Linked DNA regions of Homo sapiens: region 2 is linked to region 1. Evidence: fine-mapped expression QTL. A gene starts in region 1. The other region holds a variant in brackets. All regions are shown on one strand. Distances are between the middles of the regions. Region 1 holds the start of LINC01983 (long intergenic non-protein coding RNA 1983). Region 2 overlaps LINC01983 (long intergenic non-protein coding RNA 1983).

The links.
Region 2: its variant is fine-mapped to the expression of LINC01983 in esophagus mucosa (GTEx, PIP above 0.99). The same link has a PIP of 0.9 or more in nasal epithelium.

Annotation. Positions count from the first base shown.
Region 1 is chr3:195,859,148-195,862,054 of GRCh38, forward strand. LINC01983 (long intergenic non-protein coding RNA 1983) reads right to left here and starts at 1,257. Exons shown (of 2, transcript NR_134939.1): 1 at 1,126-1,257. RefSeq lists enhancers at 644-1,168, 1,169-1,691.
Region 2 is chr3:195,834,478-195,837,384 of GRCh38, forward strand. LINC01983 (long intergenic non-protein coding RNA 1983) reads right to left here. Exons shown (of 2, transcript NR_134939.1): 2 at 1,978-2,138. Among named protein-coding and RNA genes, the nearest start is that of MUC4, 24 kb to the left of the region's middle. The variant T/C (reference allele first, on the strand shown) is at 1,073.

The sequences.
Region 1 (2,907 bases):
ATGCGAGGACTTCTGCTGGAGAGTGACTGCCCGCTCTCCCAGCCCTCAGCTTCCCTCCAGCTAGCCCAGAGCCGCAGGTTTCTGGCCCAGGTGCAGGCGTGGTGTTTTTCAGAGCCCTCCACCCGTCTCCTTTCCTGACCTTAGATACTGGCTGGTCCCCGTTTGGCTCCAGATGGCGGGCGACCCAGTTCCTTCCCCTCCCAGCTTCCCTGGGCTGACTCCCTTTAAGCACCCATGGGCTTGAGCCAGCAGATTTGGAATTAATTGATTTATTGGGCAATGAATACACAATCTCATCCCTCCCACTCTGAAATTTAGCCAGAGGGCCTGCAATGCCACATTTTGCCAACAGGTGGTGCTGCCTAACACGAAAGCTCTCTGGCCCCGGGTCCTCAAGATGGACTTCGGGGATCATTAAAATAGCAGTCATTGGTGAGGGGCATCCTGACAGGGCACGGGGGACACAGTTACCGCCTAACACCACCACCACCACTACGCAACAACAGCCATTTCAGTACCAAGAACTCAGGAAGACACATCCAAATAAAGACCGTCCTTGAAACGGAATCTCTTTCATTTTAAGAAAAGCTCGGTCCTGCAGTTCTTATCATTTCACCTCAGGTGGCTGAAAACTTAACTCTAGACCGGCAGCGGCCCTGGACTGGCCTTCAAGAACCCTTGCTCTCGACAAAGACTCCAGCAGTTGGAGGTTCCTCCAACCTCCAAATGCAGTTTCTGTACAAATGAACTTGCTTCCAATTAAGGAAACCTTTTGTCCGCAGGGAGAGACGCACTAGGCCTTTCCTCCTTTTGTGGCTGCAGTGGAGCCGCCAGCCGCTTTCAAGCAGCCCCATCCTGAGCACCCAGATGCAACCCCACTACCCCTCTGGCTATTCCTGATGTCTTCCTTTGTCTACAAAGTCAAAAGAACTCAGCATTCCACACCAGCAGCCTCATGATCCAGGCCTGCCTCACGCGCCAGGATCACGAGAGCCGCCTCTAACCCACCCCCAAAACAACAAAAGGATGCGCTCTGGCCTTGCCAACTTCAGTGCCTGGGACAAGCCGGCTCGTGCCCGCCGCCTCGGCTGCAGGGCCCTCCACCTGCAGCGCTTTCGTCCCTACCTGGCGTTCACCGTTCTCACCCATCACATCAGCACAACGTGACCTTGTGGGGAGCCACCTCCTCTGCTCCCAAGACACCTGGTGCGTAACGATTACAGAGCACCCGTCCTGCCGTGATGCTGTCACAGTCCCCCAAAGGCTGTGGACCCATCTGGGGCACGGACTGTTTCTACTTGGCTTGTGTTTCCTCATCAGGGCTCCACACACAAAAAGCACCCGACACCTCCCCACTGAGTTGATTCTCCCTGTTGTTGATTCTGCCTGTTGTTGATTCTGCCTGTTGTTGATTCTCCCTGTTGTCGATTCTCCCTGTTGTTGATTCTCCGTTGTTGATTCTCCCTGTTGTTGATTCTGCCTGTTGTTGATTCTGCCTGTTGGCAAACACACCTGGGTCAGCGTTTCAACTTCCCAACTTAAGATCTTTTCAGTAAACCCAGGAGATGCTGGAAAAGCTGGCAGGCCGATTAGAAGCAAGAAAAACATAGCAGGAAACCCAGGGTTTAGGGAACTGTGTGTCTGGCAGGAAAAGTACACTGGGTTCCCTGCTCCCCTGAGAAACCTCGAGCTGCTTTGACATCCTCTGCCCCCTGCAAAAATCTTTCTGGATGTGTTGGCTCTGAAACAGATTTTTAAATGCTTGTAAAGCATACACACATCTGGATTGCTTACAAAAAATTGATGTGTTTTTTAAAATGAAGTAAAAACACCTATGATCTATAAATAGGATAATTGTGAGCAAAAGAATAAACTTTCTGAAACAGAAGGAAAATGAGAAAAGTAAAACACAATTCTATGCGCAGAGTGTGGTCAGTGTATAATGTGAGCTATTGATTAATAGAAACAGGCAGGAACACGGGGAAATAACATTTATAATAACTACTGTTTGGTGGGAACTGACTGTGGCCCATACTCTAAGCAAAATGTTTCACCTTCACAACCTCAGTCAGTCCTCACAACCCTTCTATAAGGCAGGAATTACTCCATCAGTTTACAGACTCAGAAAGGTGAAATAACATTTCTAAGACGAAACAGAGCTAGGAATGAAATCCAGGTCTAACAGCAATGCTCAACACTCACTTAATATGAACTTGTTCTGGCTGGATGCGGTGGCTCACGCCTGTAATCCCAGCACTTTGGGAGGCCGAGGCGGGCGGATCATGAGGTCAGGAGTTCAAGACCAGGCTGACCAGTATGGTGAAACCCCATCTCTACTAAAAATCCAAAAATTAAAAATCCAAAAATTAGTCGGGTGTGGTGGTGTGCGCCTGTGGTCCCAGCTACTCAGGTGGCGGAGGCAGGAGAATCACTTGAACCCAGGAGGCAGAGGTTGCAGTGAGCCGAGATTGCACCACTGCACTCTAGCCTGGGCAACAGAGCAAGATGCCGTCTCAAAAAAAAAAAAAAAAAAAAAAACTTGTTCCCTTTTGTGATATATTTGACTAGGTATTTTAAATCACAGTTAAAATAATAGAATTCCTGCCTTTGCAAACGGCATATGCAAAGCTCCCAGGCCTCAGAACTTCTGAGCCTCGGGGCCTACCCACGAAGGCCAGCCTACAGCCAGACACACACGTGGCCCAGACTCACCCTGAATGGCCTCTGTTTTGTTTTCAATAAACCCGAGTCATTAAGCTTACTTTCTTATGATTTACCTCTTTTCCTAAAGTTCACATGATCATATGTGAAGCTCAAAGAGCTAGTTTCCTTGATTGATCCAGTAATTTCCTGGAAAGCAGTAAGAAACCGATGAATAATCTAACATTTTGTAATGGGCCAAGGATA
Region 2 (2,907 bases), 25 kb before region 1:
GAAGCCATTGCGACCAAAACCATTCAGCAGACAGGATTTGAACCCAGCTCGGTCTGATTCCAAAACCAGAAGGACACCATGTCTTCCTTAAAGGAAGAAGGCACATCAGACCATCTGTCAAGTGGGTCCACTGAGGGTCAGAGGAAGAGCCTCCAGATGAGGGAACGGTGTCAGCAAAGCCAGAGCCCACATGGGACGAGGCGGCCCCAGAGCCGATGGCCTGAGCAGAGCCAGTCGTGTGTGTTATGGGTTTTCGCCTTAGCAGAGGCCTCACAGGCTCCCTCCCCACGTGTGTCTGCATCCGAATCTCATTTTCGCTTTGCAATACCACTGTGAGAAGAGCCTGCTGGGAGGTTCTTCCCCTTTCCCAGATGGATACACTGAGGCTCATGCAGGTGACACCATTTACCCGATGACCTATGTAAAGTCAGAAAATGTGCCGGGGGTGCTGGGGCCCCGGGAGGAGGTTGAGCTGGACTCGCCACTGGGCAGCCAAGGAGGCTGGGTGGTCCTGGCACACACAGAGGTCATGGGGCAGCATGGCCCCTGCTGTCGTCGACCACTTGGAGACTGGAGGACTTGGCCTTTGGATTTGGATAGAGGAGCCCTCTGTCATGGGTGCTGTTCAGTTCGGGGAGGTCACGGAGGTCCCCAAATGGGGATGGTCTCACTGCCGTGCCGCCTTTGCTGGCTCCTCCCCACCCTGCGACTCAGTTTCCTCGTCTGTGAAATGAGGTTGAGCTAGTTGGTCACTACCCAGTTCAGCTCTGACACTGTCGGACTCTGAGTCTGCCTGGGTGGGTCTCTGATTCCGCATGGGTGGGTCTCTGATTCCGCATGGGTGGGTCTCTGATTCCAGAGGATGCTGGCACAATGAGAGTTTTGGGGCTGGGACCGAGGTGATCGGGTGCCAAGAGGAACAAGGAAGTAAGGGGATGTTTCAAATACAGTTTCATTCCGGGTTGCTCTGAGAACTGAGTGGGGAACAGGCCCTGACGGCATCCAGGGACAGGGCCAGGACGTGTGGGGGTTAGGGGGGTGCAGGGAGTGGCAGGCCTGTCCCAGCTCCGTC[T/C]ACTAGCAGAAGAATGGGCAGCCGTGAGCTCAGGTGCGCCAGGCAGGGGAAATGGAATCGGCCGTCATGGATGTCCTGGCAGAAGTGGAGGCCGAGGAGGTCCTCTAGAAAGGGGTCTCACCCTTCTCCACAGGCCCACAAGGAGCCTCTTTCTCCTTTCACACCCAGGACGGGCCAGCAGGACCAGAGCAGTGGCCATTGAAAGTAACGTCCAAACAGGAAGATAAGGCCCAGGAGGCTCTGAGTCCCGGGTTCCCAGAGCTTTCCTGCCGCCACCCAGAAGCCCAGCAGGGCCCTCACTGGCAGCTGGCCCTTCCTCCCCAAGAGCCAGAGCTCAGACGGAGGCTCTCCCAGGGATGGCCTCCACCAGGGCTGCAGCAGAGCCTCGGCCATCTCTCAGCCCTCCCGGACAGGGAACCCCCTCCTCCCGGTTGGTTCTCCTGGGGTGAGCTTGCATGGCAGCCTGCTTCCTCCCACCTCCTGTTCCCTACACCGTCCCCACCACCGCCCTCCCGCATCAGGCCCCTGTCCTGCCTGCCCGTGCCTGATCGCCTGTACCCCGATCCATCGCTCTTCTTCTCCTCACTTCTCTCCTCCCTCGTGCACCTCTGGCCCCTGCCCATTGCTGAGATGGTTGACCCCTTTGGCCCTCAGCAAATTTAACATTCAGGAAAGGTCCACATTTCATAAATCCCTGTAATTCTAGGGTTGGGAGATGCTCCATCGAAGGTCACTTTGGCCCATCCCGGCAGCCCAGGATTGAGGTCTCCACCTTGCCCCAGACACAGCCAGCCCCTCAGAAACCAATGCCTACCAGCCAGACCCACGGGAGGACAACCGATGTACAAACCAGAAGGCCGGTGTATTAATTTAAAATGGAAAGCAGAACTCCCAAGCTGGCTGAATGCTTCATTTGCAGGTTGATTTATTCTCCCCTGTGTGGGTCTGTCAGTCTTCCATGGAGGCTGATGGAGGCTGTCCCTTTGCAAGGATTGTGTCTGGTGACGGGGCTGCCCCTTCACAGCTTCTGGATAGCTGAAGACTCAAATTGGAAAGCTTGACGAGCCTAGAAACAGGATTAGGGGAGAGGAGGGTGTGAGACTGCATTTCCCAAAACAGAGCATTCTTGCATGAACAGCTTTCCAAAAAAAGAAAAAAAAAAAAGACACCGTGGATAATGAAGCTTGCAGAAGGCTGCGCTCACCCGCTTCTGGAAATTCGCACTGTGCATCGGCCTCATCAAAGCTCTGAAACAAACACCACCTTACAGGAAGTTTTCCAAACTGACCTGACCACGAAGTGTTTTCCCTCACCCTCCCTAATACTGTCCGACGGGCAAGGCCAGGCTACTGCCAGGAATGATTTCCCAGGCCTCTCTGAGGTGGGGAGGTGGGGAGCTGGGTCCCCGTGTCCAAGGCCCCTGCCCTCCCACCAGGCTTTTTCCTGGGAGCAGCCTCCCAGGATGCCCCCTTCTTGTTCTCCTTTGACCGGCTTTTCAGGTACATCCTTTCTCGATCCATGTCACTGATGCTGCCTAGGCACTGAGGGCCTGCTCCACCCTGATGTCAGCCGGGGAGGCCTTTCTGTGCAACAGAAATACCACACCAGCAACACAGGGACAAAAGGAACAGGTTACAGGGATTAAACACAAAAACATAAACTGTGGGTGCCCTGAACTAATAAAGGAGCAGATGTCCTCAAGGGATTTAGACACAGAGGCATGGACCTGGGCTGAGTTTTGGGGTGAGGTGTGGGGAAACCAGAATTGCTCCAGTTTATAGAGTGGCCAAGATCTGCAGGGTCAGGGATGATCTGGGAGGGAGGGGTGAGGAGAG